Homo sapiens: one gene and its partner. The protein of the gene in region 1 interacts with the protein of each later gene in a pairwise test. Each region holds a gene or a part of one and is shown on either strand. Other genes may lie near its edges. The genes, in order: PLXNB2 and ARHGEF11.

What was found.
Region 2: the proteins of PLXNB2 (region 1) and ARHGEF11 interact in a two-hybrid assay, tested with the Homo sapiens proteins (2 studies listed by BioGRID).

Annotation. Positions count from the first base shown.
Region 1 is NC_000022.11:50,297,308-50,312,751, forward strand, and holds the start of PLXNB2 (plexin-B2 isoform 3 precursor), read right to left. Parts: upstream 10,340-15,444; 5' UTR 10,246-10,339; intron 6,515-10,245; exon of another isoform or gene 6,172-6,514; intron 4,363-6,171; exon of another isoform or gene 4,156-4,362; coding exon of another isoform or gene 4,040-4,155; intron 3,205-4,039; exon of another isoform or gene 3,191-3,204; intron 3,029-3,190; exon of another isoform or gene 2,819-3,028; intron 1-2,818. Other genes in the region: protein DENND6B, read right to left, coding at 14,832-14,954, 15,036-15,110, 15,216-15,318.
Region 2 is NC_000001.11:156,944,743-156,951,742, forward strand, and holds part of ARHGEF11 (rho guanine nucleotide exchange factor 11), read right to left. Parts: intron 6,958-7,000; coding exon 6,831-6,957; intron 5,276-6,830; exon of another isoform or gene 3,884-5,275; coding exon of another isoform or gene 3,831-3,883; intron 3,778-3,830; coding exon of another isoform or gene 3,757-3,777; coding exon 3,577-3,756; intron 3,487-3,576; coding exon 3,439-3,486; intron 3,215-3,438; coding exon 3,027-3,214; intron 2,709-3,026; coding exon 2,562-2,708; intron 2,274-2,561; coding exon 2,194-2,273; intron 2,046-2,193; coding exon 1,920-2,045; intron 1,421-1,919; coding exon 1,303-1,420; intron 456-1,302; coding exon 277-455; intron 1-276. UniProt on the Homo sapiens protein: May play a role in the regulation of RhoA GTPase by guanine nucleotide-binding alpha-12 (GNA12) and alpha-13 (GNA13). Acts as guanine nucleotide exchange factor (GEF) for RhoA GTPase and may act as GTPase-activating protein (GAP) for GNA12 and GNA13.

The DNA of each region.
Region 1 (15,444 bases):
CAGGGGAGGCTGGCTTCTGTCCCGCCCATCCCGCACGCCCTCGAACAACCTCCCCTGAGTGATCGATCCACTCAGGAAGCCAGAGGCAAGACCCATACTCCACTCTCCTGGAGGAGGCTTTCTGCCGTCCTCTTCCCTGGCCCTCACCGTGGAGAACGGCCATGGATTTCCCCTCCCAGAGAATAACACCATGATCCCTCCACCCTCAGTCTGGGGCCCTTCCTGGCCCAAGTCTACCTCCTCTGCCCGGCCTCTGGCTTCTCCCACCTCCATCCATCTTGCCCTCAACACTGAGCCAGGCTCCATCTCCTGCTCACAAGATTCCCGCTTAGCTACCCCAGAAAAAGGAGTTTCTTCCTTAGGTGGCTGTGGTCACACCTGACGCTGCTGCACCCAGGGACCTCGAGGCCTGAAGTCCAGAGCCAGACCAGTGAGTTCACACCCCAGCTCTGTCACGTTCTAGCTGGCTCATGTGGGCCATTCAGAAAGCTGCTCTGTGCCTCAGTTTCCCCATATGTAACCTGGGGGTCATTATGGCGCCCACCTCAGAGGGCTGCCTTGAGGTTGAGTGGGTGTGGAAATCTTTACAGCTGTGCCCACTCAGAGAACGCTGCCTCACGACATTCCCACGTCCATGTTCACTGTGCTCCCTGGAAAGCCCCTGCCCATCCTTTAGACCCCGAGACACCCTCCCTAACCCAGCCCCTGAGGGACTGGCCTTGCTCTGTGGTCTATGGTCTTCCCCGACAGGCCCCGGCTGCCCCGCCGCCCTGCCCCAACAAGTCCAAACACTGGATCTGGTCACTGGGCACCTGCCGGTCCAAACTCAGTGAGCCGGGAAGGGGTGGTGACATGCAGGGGCGCGAGCCCAGAAGACCTGTCCCCGCAGGTCACCCCCAGGCCAACAGAGCAGAAGGGTCTCCTCCCCCAACCAGAACTCCGATGTAGGCCAAGGGCAGCACAGGGATGCTGGGCCTCCCCTCTACAACCTAGACAGCCTGGGAGGCAGCAGGAGCTGCTTGCTGGCTGGGCACCTGTGGCCCTCTCCTGAGGTCCCTTTTGTTTTTTTTTTCTGACCAGCAGCCCCCAGGCCCCTTGCACGGGCTGAGTCTGGCCCCCGCCCCTCCCACTGGGTAAAGGTAAACAAGAGGCATGTAAGGGGGAAGGACAGAGCCCTACTCCAGATGAGGCCAAGAGTGGGGGCTGCCAGGCCCCCAAACTCCTGCCAGCCTTGGTTCTGAGACCGCCCCAAGTCTTGGCTGCACTGCGGGGTGGTTCCAGTGGGGACTAAAATTGGGAGTTCTCTGCCTTTCAGTATTTTCAAGCAAACAGACTGGGCCATTCTTTTCTTTTTTCTGAGACAGGTCTCACTCTGTCACCCAGGCTGGAGTGTAGGGGCATGATCTTGGCTCACTGCAACCCCTGCCTCCCAGGTTGAAGCAATTATCCTGCCTCAGCCTCTCCAGTAGCTGGGACTACAGGTGCACGCCACTATGCCCAGCTAATTTTCTGTATTTCAGTAGAGATGGGGCTTCACCGTGTTGCCCAGACCGGTTTCGAACTCCTGAGCTCAGGCAATCCACCCGCCTTGGCCTCCCAAAGTGCTGGAATTACAGGCGTGAGCCACCACACCCAGCCAGACTGACCATTCTTAATGCTAAAATCAAACCAGCACAAAGCAGTCAGGCCCAGTGGGAGGGCAGGCCCAGCTTGGGGGCTGCTCTTGGCCAGGCCAGGCTGTGGGCTCTGGCACGGGAACCAGAGAGGGCAGGGGCCAGAGGAGGTGCATGGGCAGCGGCCCGGCAGGGGCCAAGATGGGGATCCAGGCAGCAGCCGCCATGAAGAACGAGGAGAGCTCGGGCCTAGGCCTGGGAGGGCAGGAGGGGGTGGCATGAGCACCTAGGACATGGGCGGTGGAGAAGGCAGAGGTCCTAGGGCTGTGCGGCCCTCCAGGGCTCAAAGGATTGGGGTGGACACAGGCCCTGCGTGGGGTGGGGGGGGGGCCCGGTGCGGGGGCGGGGGAAGCAGCCTCGGACCAAGTGAGCGATAGGCTGCCCCAAGCACAGGCCAAGGCGCGTCTGAGAGTGGCTGTCCCGGAACGGGGCGACAGGCGTCACAGAAAAGCCACGGAGGCCCCGGAGGCCCCGCAGCCAGCAGCCAGGGGGCCGGGCCAAAGCTAGCGACACACGCAAATCTGCAATTATCCCAGAGCGCTAAACACATCAGAGGAAACAAAACAGACGCGCCGGCGAATCCCAGCCTCCGCTGTTTTCAAAACAAGCGCGAGGGGGGTGCCGCGGGGCGTGGGGCTGGGGGGTCGGCAAGGACCCCGGCCGCCCCTTCCCGCAGCGCCGCGCCCGTGGGTAGGCGCGGGGAGGGACTGGGTGGAGAGCGCGCGGGAGACCCGGCGAGGGCGAGACCGGCGGCCCCGCCACCCAGCCCCACCCACCGGTGACCCGGGTCAGAGTTCAGCCCGGGAGGCGGGGGGCGGTGTCTCCTGGGTGGGTCTGCGAGCCCGGTACCCGGCCAGAGCCAAAGGCGGGCACCCGGCCTGTGTGGAGCGCCCTGGACTATTCCTCGCAGGCCGACCCAGGTGGCACAGCCCCTCCCCCGGCGCCGGCACCGCCAGACTCCCCGGAGGGCGCAGAACGGTTGCCCGGGAGCCAGGGGCAAAGCGCGCCCGGGGCCAGGAAGCGCAGGGACTAGGCCCGCGCCTCCTCGGCGCCGCCCACTGCCCCCCGCGAGCCCAAGCTCCACGGCCACCGCCCGCGCCCTCCCGGGGACTCCGGCGCCCCGTCCGCCCCTCGGCCTCGCGCACCTGGAGGGAGCACGTGGCCGCCTCTGGGACAAACCTCACCAGGCCGGGGGCCCAGGACGCGCGGGCGGGTGGGAGTCTGACCCGAGTAACAATGACGGCGGCGGCGACAGTCACACGAGCGCAGGAGACGTCGTCCCCGCGGGGCGCTCACCTGGCGTCGGGCACATCGGATCGCACAGCCGGCCATTACCTAAGTCCTCCGAGCCGTGGAAGGGGCGCGGGGAGCAGCTCCGCCCCGCCGATGGTGGCTCCGCCCGTGCCCCCGGTCGGTCTCAGGGCTCGGCCCCTCCCGGCCCAGCTGCCAATCATGCACGACCCTGCCCGGAGCAGCCTCCCGCAGGACTCCGGACCCAGGGTCAAGGCCAGACTCACCCGAGGCAAAGGCCGAACGCTCCCGGCACAACCCGACCTAGGAGCTGGGGCGGGGCGGGGCGGGGCGGGGCTCCAGGGACAGACTGATGTGGAGGCCTGAGCCTCGCTTCAGCGTCTACAGCGGTCCCCGCTGGACTCTCGGCTGAGGACCCCTCCCAGGTGGAGGCCGTCGCACCCCTTCCCCGCCAGCCTGGTTTCAGGGTGGGGTTCCTACTTAGGGCCAGCCTCCCCTGCAGTCTGGGCTCTGGGTCCCAGCAGGAAAAGTCACCCTGGCTGGTGGCAGTGATGGGGTCACCAGCCCAGGATCCTGGGGGTGCCCCATGAAGCCCCAGCTCCTCCTGTCACTTGCTCCAGCCGAGTTAGTCACAGCCCCCACTGGTCCACACCTCCTGACACACCCAGGCCACCTGGTACCCAGGGCCTCTGTATCTAGCCCTGGCCCTCAGGCACCCCCTGAGCTCACCTGGCCATGCCCAAGGGGCCTGCCCCAGCCCCCTCTCCGCCTCTGCACCAAGTGCAGCCCCTGTATATGGTGCGTCCCTAGACTGGGGCCCCAGGCTGCCCTCCCATCCTACACACAGTTGTGAGGCCCTCCTCAGCCTCCTCTCTGGCCACGGCCCACTGGCGCATCTGGAGGATGGTCCTCCCCAGCCCTCAGACAGAAGGTGGGATCCAGTTGGCTACGGCGCCCTGTCCCCACACGCACCAGGCCTGCAGAACCACCTCTCTCCTCAACCACCCCTTTCGGGGTCCCAGACCCCATCCTGTCCAACCTGGGCACAGCTGCAGCCCCCTCTTGCTACACCGTGGTCCTTCGGGTCAGAAAGCTGGGCAGCGCAATGAACCTACCGATGTCTCCGTGCTTCCTGAGGACCTCCTGTGGGAGGGGTGGGCACCGCCAGGCGCTCGGGGCACACGAGGCCGATGGCTACAGCAGGAACCACCAACTCATCAGGACAGGACATGCGGTCAGACAGCAGGCGGCCACGGAGGGACTCTCGTGGGATTCTGGGGCTCAGTCACTTGGAGTCTCTCCTGAAAGGAGGCCTCCCGGCCCGCCGGTGCCCAGCCCCACCTGCAGGCTCTCCTCTGAGTGGCCCCCACGCATCTCCCCCTTTCCAGCTCAACCCCGCAGCAGCCGGCTGCTCAGAGACCAGGTCCTGCCTGGATGCAGCTGGCTCAAGACCAGCCCCCGCCCACAGCCCCCTTCTCACCCCCGGGGTGGGCGTTGGGGGGTGGACGGGTGAGGCCCCAGCCAGTGAGCAGTAAGCAAGGCCTGTAATCTCCCCGTCAGCCTGTCAGCGCCTCAGCGGTCACCCCAGCCCCGCCTCGCCCATCACCGCTGAACCCCACAATTAGCTTGGGGCACCGCGCCAAGCCTGTGTGCCAGACACCACTTGCACACATGACCACACATGTGCAGACACACATGGCTGGGTGCTGCCGGAAAAGCCCTGCCAACAGGGTCTCACCCCAACACCCAGAACTCGTCCCCAGTACAAAGAGCCTGGGAGAGAAGCCTCAGGCCGGGGCACTTGGGCTAAGAGGGGCAGTGGGGCTCTCAGAACCCAGCGCTGCCTGGAGCCCCGAGGGAGGGGCCATGTGTGGCATGGGGAAGTGGGGTGGGGGCAGGGCCGTCTCAGCAGGGGAGAGGGGCTGCGTCTGCCCAGGATGAGCTGGGGGCTGGTGAGGCACAGGGTGTTGGGCAGGACCTGGGTCCAGGCCAAGGGTGAGGCAGCCCAGGGTGTGGGCTGGGCCCCACAGGGGCAAACACTCAGGGCTTTGGGAGGCCAGAGGGACAGGGATTTCCCAGTGAGGAAATGCCCATCTCAGAGTGGGGGCAGGACAGTGAGTGGGAGGTGATGCCCGTGGCTGGAGCTGTGTGGGGAGGTGGGTGCCCCTGGAGGCCAGGTCCAGCCCCTTGCTCCACGCGGAGGCTTGCTCTGCTCATGGTGGAGCTGAGGACTTCAAACCCCACAGGGCCTGGTCGAGAGCCACTGGGCCCCAGGTCTAGATGTGGAACTGGGGGACCCTCCAGCGAGCTTTGCTGGGCCTGGGCGGCCTGCCTGGGGCGCCCCACCTTCACGCCCTCCTCCCTAACATCCTTTTCTCCTGAAGTCCCTCAGGGTGGTCACCAGATCAGGCTCGGTGCCAACATAGGAGTGGGGAGGCCAAGCCCCTCAGCTCCCCTGGCCAATCTCTGAGGCTGAGAGGGAGTGGGGGGGGCCATGCTGGAGCACCTCCCTCCCACCACCTGCCCCTTGCCCCTGTCAACTGCTGGCTCCACTTAAAATAGCTTCTCCCCCTCGCTGGTGGGAGGGAGGCCCTGGTGTCAAGCCGGTAAGGCTGGAGCAAGGCTGGGCACAGGGCCTGGGCTCAGCAGTGTTCTGTGCCCTCCATCTCCTCCAAAGCAGGCCCCAGCTCTGAAAACACACCTGACAGGGCTGGGATCCACAGAGTCCTCACCTCCTGCTGGTCCTCAAACCCCACTCTCCATGGCTGGGTCCCTGAAATACTTGGATTACCCTCAAGCCCCCCGCCATCCCCCCAAGCTGTGGCTCCCATGCCACCCTACCACGTCTGAGTCACACAGGCCCAGGCCTCCCTTGCTTCCCCCAGGAGAGACCCCCCCACACTCCTGCTTCTGGCCTGTCCTCAGAGCCCCAGAACTCACCTAGGTTCAAAGCCAGACCCCAGCTGAGGACAGAGCATGGACCCCAGGCAAATGCAGTGACAATCACAGAGCACGCTCCTACCACAGCCACCCACGCAGCCTGAGGCATAGCCCCCTGGAAACTGCCTCGGCCTTCAGCACCCCACTTTGGACCAGCAGGGCAGGGGGGTTCCTCCTCTGAGAAGTCCTCAAAGCTGCCTGGAAGGAGCAGACAGTGCCCCCAGACGCCAATCTGACAGGGGGCCCAATCTGTCTCTGAGCAGGTGGCATGCTGGCTCGGGGGCCCCAGACCACAACAGAAGGTCACCTGGGAAGAGAGCCGCAGCCCTACACAAGGCTCGTGGGCAGGAACCGTCCCAGCCACAGGAGCAGACGCCCTTGCCTGGCCCCTCAGGGGGCCGTGTTCACACAGGAGGCCTTCTCAGAGGTGGACACCAAGCACTTCTCTCTCTTGCGCTTGCTGCGGGACTCAGCTGGGGCAGCATCAGGCCCAGAAATCGGTGCTGGACACTGTGTCTCCACACAGGGCCCCCCATGGAAGCTGCTGACCAGCTGTGCCAGAGGGGCCGGGGCCCTACCCCCAGGAGCCCAGTCCCTGCCTCTGATGCTGCTGCTGCTGGGACCCTGCTGGCAGAGCTGGTGGCTGAACTGGGGCAGCACCTCCCTCTCCTGCCCCAGGCCTGGGCCGGGACTCAGCTGGCACTGGAATGAGGAACTATTGGCTTTCAGAAGCCAGGAGACCTTAGGGGGCTGAGGAAGAGAGCTGGACCTGCCCCCAGGCGCCCTGATCCCAGCCCAGGGCAGTCTCCTCCCTCACCTAGCCTGGGACATGAGGCAGCTCAGGTGTGGCCTTAGGGGCTACCCCCAGGGAAGGCCACCAACCATAGCGGGCCACGGTGTGGGCTGGCCTCTGGGTGTGAAGGGCTCCAGGATCTGGGCTGCAGAGGCGGGACTGTGCGAAACAGAACCCCCAGCTCCACAGCCAGGCCAGCCCCAGGCTCCTCCCCAGACAGACATCCCCGGGGGTGGGGCAAACCTGCAGTACCACCAGGGGCAGCCTGTCCCACCATCCCCGGCACCACTGGGCCTGGGGCCAGTCACTGTCACAGGTTCATGAATCTCACAGGGCAGGGTGGATCCACTGGGGGGGTGCGGGGTGCCAGTGTTCAGGGCCAGACGGGAGGGGCCCAGCCAATCCCTTCACACGCTTGGTCTTCAGAGAGAAGGCTTCTGAGCCAGGAGGGCCACTGTGTCAGGGCCTGGCTTGAGGCCACACCTGTGGCTGGGGGAGCCCAGAACAGTGCAGGGTCCTTCCCTGGTAGGCAGAGAAAGGCAGGGGTCCTTACAATCCAGGGGTATGGGAAGAAGCAGGCCCTGTGTCAAGGGATGTGAAACCACGGAAAGGAAGAAGGTGGAGGAACCTCGACCAGAAAGAGGGAAGCTAGGGCAGCTGCCTCCCCGGGGCCCCAGAGCCTGAGCACCCCCCACCAGCCAAGGCTCTGACCCACCCTCCCCATCGTGTAATTAGTCAGAGACCCAGCCCCACCCCACCCACAGCCCCACCCCAAACACAAACAGCCACTACCCCTGAGGGAGGGAGGGGCTGTGGCCAGTCCCAGCCCTACTGAATCTCCCACCCCCAGAGAACCTGGATCTGCCTCAGAGAAGGGAGGTCAAGGCTGGGGGGCCACTTGCTGGCCACTGGGTGAATTCTGAGCAGCTCACCACCTCATCCCCAAACCGTGTCCAAGGCAGGCTCTGGGCACAAGAGGTTCCCCGCCAACTTCCAAGGAGGGCGGCCAGGCTGCAGCCAGAGGGACGGAGGCATGAGCTGAGTGAGAACTCCCAGCTCAGGGGAAGGCAGCCCTCGTGGCAGAGGCCTGGCATCCAAGTGCCTGCCTAGCTCAGAGAAGGCACAATATGAGGGGCCGGAAGACACAGCCTCTCCCAGCCAGTGCACCCCTGCCCACGCCCGCGTCCCAGGGGGACCATCAGCTGTGGCTGGCACAGGGTGAGGCAGGGGGCAGGACACGGTGAGCACGGACGACGTCCTGGGATGGGAGGAGGACTGTGCCATATGGGCCCTCCCCACCACCTTCCAATCCAATCTCTTCTGCTCCACTTCCCTGGGCCGGGTCCAAGGCTCTGGGCTTTCTGCACTTGGGGCCAGCTGCCGGCTCCTCCTCCCCGATGTGGTCCCCATGCAGGCCGCCGGGCACACACCCCGGGCGCACACACAGCATGGACCCAGAGCGCCAGGTAGCCACAGCCCTGGCCACACAGCATCGCAGATGACTCCTCACATAGACCTATCTCTGGCCTCAGTCTCCCCACCTGCAGGATGGGCTCACAGGCGCCATATCCAGAGGGGGTCGTAGGCAAGGACTGGCTGTCGGAGGGGCTTGGAGGGAGGCTGGTCCGTTAGTCAGGAGCTGAATAGGGAGTCCGTTGGGGCAGGAGGGCCCCCTGAGGGAAACCCCAGTGCCCTCCCTAGCAGCCTAGCCTCGCTCCTGCCTGCTCCTCCCTGGCACGCACAGGTCACTGGCACAGGGTGTGTCCCTGAACTTGGGCCTGGAGGGTACCTCAGAGGCTCTTCAGACCACCATTGAGACTTCTCGGGGCGAGGGGGTCCCTGGGTGGGGCGAGGGGGTCCCTGGGTGGGCCCAGAGCTCCTCCTGTTCCATGGTCTCCCCCAGAGGGGCTTGGGCCCACTGCAGGCTCAGCAGGGCCTGCTGGGGCCAACCTTGGGGCTTTCTCCAACCCAAAGGTGACGCATCTTCTCCCCGCCCAGTCTGGGCAGCTGCAGTAGAAAGTGGCAGAGCTGCCCGGACTTGCCCGTCCTCCTCCTGGGGCCCTCAACCCACGTCCCGGAAGTGGATCCTTCTCCCACGCTGCAGCCTCCCGCTTCGGGTGACTGGACACGGCTGGATGATCCAAAATAATTCTTTCTTGGCAGGCAGCCGGTGGGGGAGGGGGACTCACATTCCAAACCCTTGTTTTTCTCAGTAACTTCCCTCCTCTACTGGGGCAAGGAACCCCTGGCCAGACCTCAGGCCTCCCAGACCCCCCGGGACAGAGGTGGGCCCCCCATAGGTACCGTGGGAGGACTCAGATGTGCCAGGCCCACCTGCTTGCTTCTCAGTCGGCTCTGGGGATTTCTATGCAACATGCAAAAAGCTGACTCGCCACAAACCTATGCCTGCTGGCCCTGCCCTCCGGGAGACCCTCACCTCTGGACAGGAAAGGGAGGGCTCCTCCCACCAGCTGTTCAGCTGTTCCGTGCCAGGGTCATCTGGGCATGGGGCAGGCTGAGAGCCCCCACTTCCCGGCAGCCTCGCTCTCCCACCCGCAAAGGGCTCCTGAGGAAGCTCAACTTTAAAGCCTCACAGGCTGCGCCGAACCTCCAAGCAAGGGCCGAAGTCAGACATTAAGTGGGGAGGGCGGGGGGGTCCAGGGAAGGTGGGGCACAGGGAGCCCTCCAGGCCGCCGGGATCTGCCGGGTTTGGGGCCCACCCTCACCCTCACCCTCACCCTCACCCTCACCCTCACCCTCACCCTCACCCCCTGTCCTGACTCTGCCACAGCCCACAGTGGGCAGACGGACCCCTTTCTTCCTTTCCCAGGGAGCTTCGGGAAGAGAAATCAAGGGCCTGGCAGGAAGCCCCAGGGCGTCCGGGCTCTGAGACCCCCAGATGACAGGGGGAGGCGGGCTCCCCAGATCTGCCGAATAGCCCGACCAGGGGCGCTGGCAGGGCAGGGGCTTCCTGCAGGAGCAGGGTGCGGAGGGGCAGGGTCAGCAGGGGACAGGCAGGGCTCGCGCCCCCGCTTCTGAGACTTTCTGTGTCTCGGGGTGTCCACCCAGACGCCACTCTGGGAACCGCGAGGAGGCCCAGGCAGTGGGGTCTCGCCAGGTGCGGGTGCTCTCCGCCCTGGTCCCCCCGCGCCAAGCAGGCCCCAGGGGGTGCGGGGACGGCCCCCGGGAGCTCGGGCAAATCCAGGCTCCTGTGCCGCTGAGCCTGGGGCCGGCCCGGAGCGCCCGCACCGCGAGACCATCTCCGCTCGGCGCACGGAGCTCGGCGGCTGAAGAGTGAGAGGCAGGCGCGGAGGAGGGATCCGACGCGGCTCCGGAGGGACGCGCAGCCCCCGCCGCCGGGCCCGTCCCCCGAGTCAACACCGGGAAGGGAGTGGGGCGGCAGCGGCCCGGGCCTCGCCGGATGGACCGACGGACGGGGCCCAGGCCCCGGGAGCCCTCCGCGGAGCCGCAGCCGCCGCAGGTCCCCGGGCCCCAGCGCGGCAGGCCCGGGCGGAGCGGCGCTGACGGCGAAGCCCCCCCCACGCCCAGCGAGACGTCCCCCGCAGCCCAGTCCCCCGAGCTCGGTACCTGCACGTCCGCCGCCAAGGCTCGATGGCGCCCGGGCCGCGCTCGGCGCTGCGCTCTGGCCCGCGCTGCTGCCATGGAGACGGGGCCTTTGTGTGGCCGAGGAGGGGCCGGAGCGCGCGGGAGCTGCCGGCCCCGCCCCCGACGAGGGAGAGGAGGGGAGGGCGGGGAGAACAGGAGAAGGGGGGAGAGGGAGAGGGAAAGCGGAGGGGGAGAAGGAGGGGGAGGGGGAGGGGGGAGAGGGGGAGGGGGGAGAGGGGGAGGGGGAAGAGGGGGAGGGGGAGAGGGGGAGGGGGAAGAGGGGGAGGGGGAGGGGAGGGGGAGCAGGAGCGGGGAGGAGAGGGCAGAAGAGAACCGGAGAGGAGGGGAGGGGACGGGAGGGGAGGGGCTGGGCCTGCGCTCCCCGCGCCCCCCACTTCTCCCCTGCCCAGCGGCCACAGCATTGTCTGGTAGGTTCAGGCACCCCAGTTCAGACCCAGGTTCAGCCAGGGCAGCACCCTGCCCACCATGCCGCCGTCCAGGAAGCACGAGCGCCCACAGAGGCCCCATGGCCTGAGCACCCCCACAGGAACCCCGCAGGTCTGAGGGGAGGCCATGGCTTGGTACCAGGGGAGGGCATTATGAGTGCACTCTCGCCTGGCCAGAGGAACGTGAGGGTCCCTGCCAGTCTTGAGATGTGTGGGCACCAGACTCTCACTCCCAGACTGGAAGCATACCAGTCGCTCCCCTGCGGCCTTCAGGGGTGGGGGCTGCTGGGCTTTGGCCCTTTCCCAGGGGTCTCAGGCCCTCAACCTCCCAGGGTAAACTGGGACCTGGAGATGGCCTCCCAGCACATCCCTGGCCTCCAGCAGCACCTTGGGATGCTGCACCCGGGACCCCACCTGGTCCTTCAGGGCCAGGAGGTGGGCGGGCCGAGACCTCTTTCTGGGGGTTCTGGTTTCTGGGACAGAGCTGGCCCCACTTCTGGCATCCCAGGTCCCAAGTCCTGGCCTCAGTGCTCCTAGTGTCCCCTGGGCTTGAGAAGAGGTGGTGAACCGTCTGCAGGGCCAGACCTTGGAGCACGCCTCCACTGCCCTCCCGGAACTGGATGTGCTGAGCAGGAGACAGAAGCATTCCCCAAGCTCTTGCCCCCACCCTGGGTCACCCCTCCCTGGGGCCCGCCTTCCACCCAGACCTGCCCCGTCCTTGCAGCTGGTCAGCTTCCTCCTGTCCCCAGCCAGGCATCCCCTCCTCCTCTGCTTCCCCCACCCGGGATCCGCCCCGCCACATCCTGACAAACTCCCCCAGCCTGACTTAGTTCTTTCAGTCTCTGCCTTCTCCCACCCTCAAGCAGCCAGGCCTTGTTCCTGTCCAAAATCTTCCCTTGGGCCTTGAACCACAATCCACATCACGGCAACCCTACCCTTCACTGCAGAGGACCCCAAAATTACCAGGTTCTGACAAGGTTGCCAACTTTTTATCAAAAAAGGAAAAGACAAGGTCCAGTCACAAAAGGACATTTTAATACCAAAACTGTGGGAAGGCCACTGTTCTAGACTAAAAGGGAGTCTTTAAATAGCCAGCAGGAAGCTTGAGGGTGAGCAGCTGTCCTTCCTGTCCCTGAGCAGGCCCCCTGTGTGCACCCTCAGCCCCGAGCCCCACTCCAGACCTGCTCCCAGCCCTTCCCACCCTCTAGGTTCTGTGGTCCCTGTCCTTCGGGAGGCCTGTGACCACAGCAGTCCTCACCCTCGCCAACTAAGTTCTGCCCAGCAAGCCCTCTTGCCTGCGGGGGCTGGCACTCTGGCCAGGGGTAGAGCTGTCTGGACCTTCCTGCCTCTTCACTGACTGCCCCTGGCCTGGAGTGCGTGGGGCGGGGAGGGCCATGGCCTAGCCCTGGACAGAGGCTCAGCCAACTCAGAGCGGCCCTGACACTGGGGGGGCCACAAGAGGCATCCGGACAGATGGAGCTGGCAGGTCTCCACGCCCAGCCCCCACCCATCCACCCCAGGCCACATTCCACCCCAGGCCTCTTCTGCACAGGTGGGGACAGGCCCTGAGGAAGAGGGGCTGGGACACTACCCCCCACCTTAGCCTTAGCTTCTGCCCAGGGCAATGCTGGCCACCCAGCCCGGTTCCCCCCTCAAGTTCCCCCTTCACACGCCACTATGTGGCCTCACCAGAGCCCTCCAGGGAAATCTGCTTGTGCATTTCTGGATACACAGTGGCCAGGGTCCCTGGGGGCTCCTCAGAGACCAGCCTGAAGCCCCTCCCCTGCAGCCATGTGGGTCTGCAGCCCTCTGTGCTGTGCGGCAGCCCTCAGAAAGCCAAGTGAGGCGAGACTGTGCTGTGGGGAAGCACATGCTGCCACGGTCCTTGGGGTGCGCTCCCCAAAGTGGGGTCACAGTTGTGAGAGAGGTGGGTTGTCTTCCCAAGCTGCCCCGACACCTTGAAGTGGTGGTCCTCAGGGGGCTGGTCACCAGCATAAGGCTTTTGCAGAGGGCCCTGGTGGAGGGCAGCTGATGGCAGGGCCTGTACTGGCCCCCCAGGCCCCATCTTATGGAGGTCAGCATTCAAGCTGCCCACACAAGAGGTGCCAGCATCTCTGCAGACCCTCTAGAGACCAAGCCCTCAGTGGGGAGGCTGGTCCCCCTGTGCTACAGTCAGGAGGCCCAAGCTGCATTTGGGGCCAGGACCTTTCTCACCCTCGGGTCCCCGGCTTGTCCCTGCCACAGAACAGGTTTGCCACCTCGGCCTCTATGTGTTCTGTTTCATGTGGTCACATCCTTGGACCCTGCACCAGACATCTGGGGCTTAACAGCTCCCCTTGGTCACCCTCCCGGCTGCCTCCGCGTCTTGTCTGTAGAATGGGAACAGGGACAGGCTGTCCTGGGCTGCAGTTGGGCTGGACAAGTTGACATGTACCAAGTTCTGAGAACTACCTGGCGCCCGGACACCTGACCCCGCTGTCCTTGTGGCTCAGTCACATCCTGCACTGAAGTGGCTGGCAGTGCTCGCTCTCCACCACCTGGCTGGAGGTCTGAGAGCACCAATGAGAACACAAACAGTACGTTGCGCTGAATGAAGGCTACATTCCTCGGACTGAATGGGGGCCTCAGAAGAAAAAGAAAAGTCCCGGCCGGGCGCGGTGGCTCATGCCTGTAATCCTAGCACGTTGGGAGGCCGAGGCGGGCGGATTACGAGGTCAGGAGATCGAGACCATCCTGGCTAACATGGTGAAACCCTGTCTCTACTACAAATACAAAAAATTAACCAAGCGCAGTGGTGGGTGCCTGTAGTCCCAGCTACTCGGGAGGCTGAGGCAGGAGAATGGCGTGAACCCGGGAGGCAGAGCTTGCAGTGAGCCGAGATCATGCCACTGCACTCCAGCCTGGGCAACAGAGCGAGACTCCATTTCAAAAAGAAAAAAAAAGAAAAAGTCCCTCCCCCAGCCCTGTGTCCCCTGGCCAGCACCCGCCCGGCCTCACAGGGTACAAAGCCCAGTCTCCATGAGTGGCCCTCCCAGCACCCTGTCGGGCATCTGCATGGCTGGCTCGCTCAGATGAGGAGTCTGAGGGTCTGAGTGGTCAGGGGACCTGCTCCCGGGCACACAGTGCGTGATGCTGAGCAGGGCTTGGCTGTCCGGAGCCCTGACAGTACCGTCACTGTGTGCTGTGCAGGGTCAACACCGTACCTCACCGGCCTCAGTGCCTGCAGGTGTCACGGGGGGAGCATACAACCCAGAGGTGGCTCTTAGGGACGTTCACCCCTTACCAAGGAAAGGGAGACATGCAGGCTCCAGCCAGAGGCAGGGTCAGGCCGAAGTCCAGAGCCCCTTGGGCTGCATGTGGGGGATGGACGGACACACTTGGACAACAGGAGCCCTGTCCACCTCCCAGAAGGGACGCACGGAGCTGGTGCCTGGTGGGGGCTCCAGGACTGGGAGCCAGGAAGGTGCTGTGGCTCTCCGAGAGCCAGGCTGAGCCAGCTCTCCTAGCAGAGGTGCTGGGCTGCACACAGCCCCCTGCCCAACCCCTACCTCCCAACAAACCACAGCCCCAAGCAGGTGGGTGTCCAGAGGAGCACCAGGGGTGGTGAGCAGAGCTCTTCACACTGCAAAGTGGTCTCTCCCTTTCTCAAGTTGATGACTATATGCAAAATAGCCTCCCATCCCCAGACAAGACGGGGGCTGTGTCAGGAGAGGGTCCCTCCTGTCCTGGGCAGCCTGTTGGGCTGAGGGAAGCATCACACACAGCGCAGGGGGGTCGGGGGCCAACAGATGGGCACCGGGAGGGGCAGACGGTAGACGCACCCACATCAGCAAGGGCTCCCAGCCTGTCCCCGCCCCCGTCCCAGCCTAAGGTCTGCAGAGGCCAGGTGGGACCCAGGAGGAGGCAAGGCTCTGCCTGCGAGGAACCCCTATGGTCAAGGCCATGCTGTGGTTCCAAATGTCGCCTTTACTGCTGAGACAATGGTGGTGCAGGAAGGGGAGCCTGCAGTCTGGGCGGGGGGCCAAGGAAGGGGAGCGTGTGCTTGGCCCAGTGCCGCCACCACTGGGGAGTGGGAGGCTCAGGCAGACCTAGGGCCCTGGGACCGTGGCCCTTGGCTTTGTTCTAGGGAGGGCACAAGACAGCCTGCAGGTCTTTGGGCAGGGAGCCGATGACCGTCTCGATGTACAGCTGTGCCCGCTGCAGCGTAGCCTCCTTCACAGGGAGCTGGTGGCCCTGAGCCCGCACCTGGAGGGGCAGCCATGGTCAGGGCAGGCGCAGCTCCGTGCCAGGCTGGTGGCGCTGGGACAAGGCTGGGAGGCATCTTACCAGCTTCTCACGAAGTTTCAGGACCAGGTCCACGACCTCCACCTCGGACTTGTCTTTCATCCAGGTCTCGATGTTCTGCAGGGCAAGACGGGGTCTACTGTCAGCAAGGCCCCTCACTGCCCTGGGCCTGTGCCCACCCCCACCATGTTCTGGCCCTCCCCAACCCCCAGCCTCTCTCACCGCCTCACAGATAGCCTCCAGGTGCAGGGCCTCCAGCTTCAGGGCCATCTCCTTGTGCCGCTGCCGGTACCAGCCATCAAAATGGGGGGACTTGAAAAACCGCCTGTGGGGATTAACAGGCGGGGGGCCATGGGGCTGACCCTGGGGATTGACAGGCGGGGGCCATGGGGCTGACCCTGGGGATTGACAGGCGGGGGGCCATGGGGCTGACCCTGGGGATTGACAGGCG
Region 2 (7,000 bases), on another chromosome or scaffold:
TCCCAGAAGATCTCCACCTTACCTCCAGTTCTACCCCATCCCCTGCTCTCTCAGGCTGAGTTCCAACATCTAGTCTTTCTTAGGTGGGGCGGCCTGCCTTGTCCATCTAGGGACAGGGTGACAATAGCAGGGTGTGTGTCTTCTGGGGCTCCATTGTGCCACCCTATCTGGTCTCTGTCTCCTACCTCTAAGACTCTCCAAGCCCTGACCAGTGTTCTGCTCCTAAGGGTACCCACAAAGTGTGAGGGGTTGACTGCTGCAGCCTCTGCCTCCTACCTTGAACTCTGCTGCCAGGGGGTTGCTGGCCCTCTCCAGGGCGGTGGCATCCAGGCGTTTCTGGTAGCCCTCTAAACGGTGGCGGTTCTCTGTTTGTTTTACCGCTTCATTCACATACTTGAGAATCTCCCGGCACTGGTCCCGGGCCCGGCACAGCTTCTCATGCTCAGAGGTGCCACCTACCAAAATGGACAGAAGAGATGGTTGGGGCTCCTGCCTGAGAAGTCCAACATGGCGCCAGCTGTTATCTGCCTATTCATCCATGGCAGCTGGCTTGCTTCAAACCAGCAGGCGTGGGTGGAGGGGAGCCACCCTTGCCTCACATGAGGACCCCAAGTGGTAAGGGTAACTTTTACTGAGCATCTTCAGGTCTCAGACAGATCACTGCTTTGAAGACGCTGATAGCTCCTGGGAATCCCTGCCTCTACTACAACCAGCTCTACAGATGCAAGGGACAGAGACTGTGGTAAATGGCCACAATTATGCCTCTAGAAAGCCTGTTCAAATCAGATTGGGGTTCCTAACACCTCTCTGTCCTGACTCCAATGTCTGAAATTTGGGGGTAGTGAAAGATGCCCAGGATCCCAGGGAGAGTGATAACCTGAGGCTAGACCCTCTTGTTCAGTCTGGTCCCCTGCCCCTCTAGTGTAACCACATAGGCTGTGTCTTTTGTGCACTGCAGGGGGCATGAATGGGGATAAAATCCAGCCCCATGCAACCAGAGGGACCCAGGTGCCCTTGAGTGCCAGCCTGTGTTGGGCACCGGATGCTTTCCTTGGATTTGCACAAAGGCCCACACAGGTGGCCTTCGATGGTGGCCCCTACTCCTCCCACTATTAAACACCTTATATTTTCCAAAGGACATTTACAATCATTTTCTTCTCTGAAACACCCCACAACAGAAAAAGGACGAAGACACCAAAGACCACAAGGCACAGTGACTTGCTAAGGTCACAAAGCAGTGTCAGAATGAGGGTCTGGCACGAGGCCCACTGCCTGTGATGCCAGCCCCTCCCCAGGTGCTACCCTCTGTGTGCTTGATGATGCTCTCCAGCAGCAGCGGGTACTTGGTGAGCCGCTGCATCTCAGAGATGATGAGGTCTCTCAGCTGCAGCCGCCGACACTGAGGGTGGCTCTCAGCCTCCTAGACAGCAGGAGACACAGAAGGGAGGAGATGTCAGCGTGGCTGGGAGCTGGCTTATGGGCTCAGGGCCAAGATGGGTGTGAACATGACAAACAGGTCCTAACGCCAGATGGATCACTCAGAAATGGCAGTGGAAGCTTCTTCCTTAAAGATGTAGAGAAGGGTGTGTGGTGGCAGGGAGACACCAATCCAAAGGGATATGGTCAAAACAGAAGGGCAGGCATATTGCTGCCATTCTATAGACAAGGAAACTGAGATCCATCTCAGGACACACAGGTGCTGGTGGGTGAGCCAGGCCTCTGACTGCTAATCCAGGATTCTTTCCAACAAACAGAAGTCTCTTTGTCTAGAGTGAGTCAGTGCTTTTGAGGAGCGTGTGTCGAAGGGTAGAGGGAGTTGCTGTAGACAGGGATGATGTGGCCAGAAGGAGAGAAGTTCAGGAGATCCTTGGTGACCTTGATGGAGATGAAGGAAGGCCAAGGCATGGCCAAGGACGCACCTGCATGAAGAGCTGGAATCGACTCTCCTTGCGTTGCTTGGTCTTGATTAGCTCTAGGGCTATTGACTGATAGGAACAGAACTGTGCAGCCACTTGCTGGAGTTCCTCTCGGGCAGGGCCATCAAACTGAAGAGGCAGAATGGACACGGGGCCAGGCATCAAACCCCTGCCTGGGACCAGACCCCTGCCTTTGCCAAATTCTCTGGCCTTGGGTAATGAGACCCTGCCTCCCCCAATCTCCTCCTTGCCAAGAGGGAGAAGTTTGGAGCCATACCCGGGCCAGCATGAGGTCACTGATCTCTTTGATGATGGGGCCTTCCTCCCGGAGCTTCTTCATGGCTTCACACCAGGAATCTGGGGCAGGAAGAGAACAAATAGAAATGCCTGGGGTTGAGCTCAACTGCCAGAACCTTTCTGACAGAGAGAAGTGAATCTCTGACAGCAGTGCCATGGGAAGGGTCTGGAAACCATTGTACTTTCGGGGTGAACTCCAGTGCTGGTTTCAGGCTGTCCACAGATCTTTTTCTCACCAGGGATTGGTGGGAGGTTACCTACTCAGGGAGGTCCTGGCAGTGGGGCCAAAGTGGAACAGGAAGCTGAAGGGCAGCAGAAGAGGAGTCTGGAGGGGCACAGGCTCCTTACTGTGAATCTCTATGAGTTCAGGCAGGTTCGGGAAGAGCCGGGCCAGCTCCTCCCGGGGCATCAGGTTCTCCTTCTTCATTCGCTGGTAGAAGATCAGGTCCAGGACCCGGAGTGTGCGCAGGTGGGAAGCTTCAGTCACAAACAGCTCTGAGCGGTGGTTGTGACAAGGAGGGTAGAAAGCCAGGGAGAAAACGGATCAGCAAGTATCTAGAGTCCCTGACCTGGTTCCCACACCACTCTATTTTTGGGGGAACTGAAGTGCCAGTTTCAGATCATACAGCAACTTTTCTCTTACTCCAAGGGCCAGAACTGAGGGGAACCTTATAGCAACAGGCAATGTGGACCTGCTCCAGCACACAGGGGCCCCCCACCCTATTTACCTCTTTCCCACCCTTGTGTCTTAGGCATTCTGGACCTATTCCCACACGTGTGAGCGGAGCTGGGGGCAGTGGAGCACGTTCTCACCATTGATGACCTCTTGCCGGTCAATCTCCCGCTGGGTTAGCCCAGCCACCACATCCTTGCCCACTGTATGCTGCCAATTTTGGGCATCTGGCTCTGGCTCCAGGTCAGACAGCTGGCCCAGATCATCCTCTAGGAGGTGGGGAAGGAGGGTATCTGTGCAGAACCCCAAACTGGGGGACTCAATGCTCCTGGGGGAAAACAGGCAGCTCAGCTTCATTTAGGAGGAAGAACTCACACAGAGGGTTTGGCCCTCCCTCTCCTGCCCGACCTGCTTGCCCCATGCACATGGGAAACCAGTGGGCCCAGAAGAGGAGACAGCCACCCAACCAGCCCCTTGCAGGTGAGAGGAGCAGCTGGGTGTGGATGGGACACAGAGACACCAAACAGAGGCACCACCGTGCCCATCACTTACCTGCGGCCCATTTTGGGAGTGAATGGAGGGGTTGGGTTCTCAAGAGACCTGTGGAGGGAATGTCAACTCTCAGCAACCCTCTATCCTTGCCGCCACCCCTGAGATGTCCATGGGTGCAGCCGTTGTAGCCCTGCCCACCTGGTGGAGAGGCTGGAGGTAGAGGACGAGGCTGACTGGTGCAGGCGAGTAGCCTCCGCAGCAGCATCCATGTCAACATCACTGCGAGAGCGGGGCACGTTCTCTGCCTTTCGAGACCGTTTCATCTCTTCCCGGCCCTTGAGGCTTTCAGAGCGGCCCAGGCGAATCTCTGAGCGTGAACTGGGGGGAAGGGACAAAAGACTTTGGGACTTGGGAAGTCAGTGGGCCATGCTTACATCCTGGCTAACTCTTACCTGTGGCTCCATCTCAAAGATGCCTCCGTGCCACAGGTTCTCCTCCTGAACATGGCCAAAGCAGCTGGATGGCAGTGGAAGCTTCTCAATGACAGACTATTTTTGCTGCTCTACAAACTCCTCCTCTCTCCCCAGCCTAGCCTGATGGATGGACAGTCATCTTCCTCTGGAGCTATTAGGAAGGGATCCTAACAGGAAGATGAAATCTGGGGCTAACAGACTCTGAGTTGTAGTGTGTCCAGAGGCCTGAGACACCATGCTTCTGTCAAGAAGGTGGTAGACATCATCGTCCCTCAACAGGGAACACAAGGTCCCAGCTCCCTGCCCCTAGTGGCCAGTTCACGTTGCCTCTGCTTTGGAACGGGTCAGCTCCCACCTTTAACTCTGCCTGAGGCGAACCTCTTTTAAGAGGTCTTAAGAGGAAAGTGGAGTCACTATATTCACAGCTCATTTTAGGATTTTCCACACTGCCTGTCAGAAAGTTCTATCTGCTGCTGGATTCTTAGCCTTCCAGTTGTGATGTGGATGAGTTCCATTCTTATCTTAACAATACTGTTCCTAAGATTCCATTTCCTCTCAAGAGCAGACAGGCTTGTGCTTAAAGGGGCCTTTTTACTGATAGGCAGGACCCGCTCCTTGGCCTGCCGTGCTTGGCTACTGAGTGTCTCTGGGGTTTGATGAGATGCTGATGACTGGGTGTTGCGGTGTCGAGTCCTGCAGTGCATCAGCCCAAGACAGCTGGCACCTCTGACCCCTAGCTGCCCCAGGATGGTCACCCCACCTCCATGCTGTGGCCCTGTTGGGCTGGTTTTCTGATATTATTAGTAATCTACATCCTGCTCTGCTTCTAGGACCACAGGAGGCCTGGAAATGTCTGCAGAGCTCTTAATAGCACAGCAGGTTGCTGCAATGAGGAGCTAAATGTCTCGGTCTCCATTCATTGTGCCCAAACTGCCAGATGATCCAAAATGGAGCTCATCTCCTAGGGTCCTGAGGGTTTTGTCTGCAGGGTTAGAAAACATACTGCCCACTGATCCCTTATTGAATTCACCCTCCAGAATTGTGTTAGAACAATCCCAACCCAGACTAACTCGGAACACTTTTCAGTGTCCTAATGGGTCACTGTACCACCACAACAAACACCCAGTGGAGTTACTGGGGCTGCAGAGCTAAGCACCTTCCTTCAAGCACCCAGAAGTAAGTAATGCTCCTCACCAAGAAGTGAGGCATATCATCTGTCTTTGCCCCCAAATTCCTAGGGTATTGCCTTCTAGAACTGGGGCATCTTATACCTGTTGAGTATCTACAACAATCTCTGACCCACCATATTGCTAATACTATTTCTTCTGAGATTGCCAATGAGTTGATAATCATCAAACCCAAAGGCTTCTGCTTAGAGTAGCTTTAGGATCCTAGCAAGTGTCTTAGGGCAAATTTACCTAGCAATGCCAAGAATGCAACTTTGTAAATGGTCTCAAATATTTTCTCAAAATGTTGATGTCTTATAATCTTAAAATATTTGATATATCTACGACATCATGTGCTTCCACAGGAATCACATAATTTGCGTATTTAACTTACCCATTAATGTTAGAACTCAACCTTCCCCCAGTACAAATCTAACCTTTGTCTCCTGTAAATCTGTCAATTCTCATGGCAGCAAAATCTTTTAACACGTGTTAAGCTGAAAAAAGGCTTCATATAAACAGAAAGGAGTAACCTGCATTCAAGCAGGAAAGGTTGGCTTATGGTTTGATAATTAGTTATTTCAAAGGCAAAATAGGCCAGGTGCAGTGGCTCATGCCTATAATCCTAGCACTTTGGGAGGCTGAGGCAGGAAGATTGCTGTGGTTGGGAGTTCGAGACCAAGCTGGGCAACATAGTGAGACTGTCTCAAAAAAATAAAAATAAAAATCAATTAGCCAGGTGCAGTGGTGCATGCCTGTATCCCTAGTTACTCAGGAGGCTGAGGTGGGAGGATCCCTTGAACCCAGGAGTTTGAGGCTGCAGTGAGCTATGATTGCACCACTGCAATCCAGCCTGGGTGACAGAGAAAGATCCTGTCTCTTTAAAAAAGAAAAAAAAATCCCCAAAACAAACAAACAAACAAACGAAGGCAAAATGGCTTGAATATCCACGCTGCTGCATACTGACTTGCTTTCATGCCTGCCTATACTCCAGCTCAGTGGCTCTGAGGCTTGACTGTACACAAGCATTATTTCCCCCCACACAAGACCATATTACTCTACCTGTTTAAGTCACCTTTAAGGGTGGTGTTGGTTTTTAAGTGTTGGCTATAGAATTTTAGACATGACTTGACTGCTGTCATGCCACAATCAAGAGCAAGTAAGTCCAAGAACAAGTTTTCATACCAGATGGGGACTCTAGTTAGAACCTGACCAAAGAAGAATATGAGAGATGCCAGTCTCAATTCCCCTTTTTCTTCTTGAAAAGGGAAAAACAGTCCATTTGTAATCAATCCACTTTGCCTCTCTTTGCTGAGGTGGACATCTGATGCCTATAGTTACATCATTTGTCTTTAAAGTACCCAGCAGAACCTCATCTCTGGCTCTCTTCTTCACATACAGACAGGAAACCACTTTCTTTTGCCTGCCTGGGTCTTTTTTCCCCAGGACTCCCTCTTGCCCCCACTATAGTCTTCCTTATCCTTGTCACTTAGGGTTTCCTGATTAGCTGCTTTTTATCACCTAGCTCGATCTTGGATGAAGGCTACTGAGTAGTCAGGTGATAAATCCAAAGGGAATTTGAAAAGTGTGTAGTTCTTGGGCTGGAAGTCGGGGATCTGCTTGCTCTTCCACTGGCCTGTTCACTGGCACACAATGTGTCTCCTGAAGATACTGGGGGTGGGGAGGAAGTTCTGTAAAGGGAGCCTTAGAAGCTAGTGGAGAGGGGTCAAGTAGCTGGAATTAAACCCTAGCATCAGCCCTGCCCATGACCCACTCTTCGAGCAGCTGGCGAGTCCCATCCAGCCAGTGCTACCTGTCACTCTCCAGCAGGTCCTCAGGAAAGCTTCCGGTCGAGAGTCGTTGTGTCCCAGGTTCTGGGGCATCATACTGCTGGTTGTTCTCAAAGTGCTGAATGATGTTCCTCACATTGCCTGGTTTGACTAGAAGCAAAAAGAAAATGAAGGACACTAGGCTTGCTGTTCA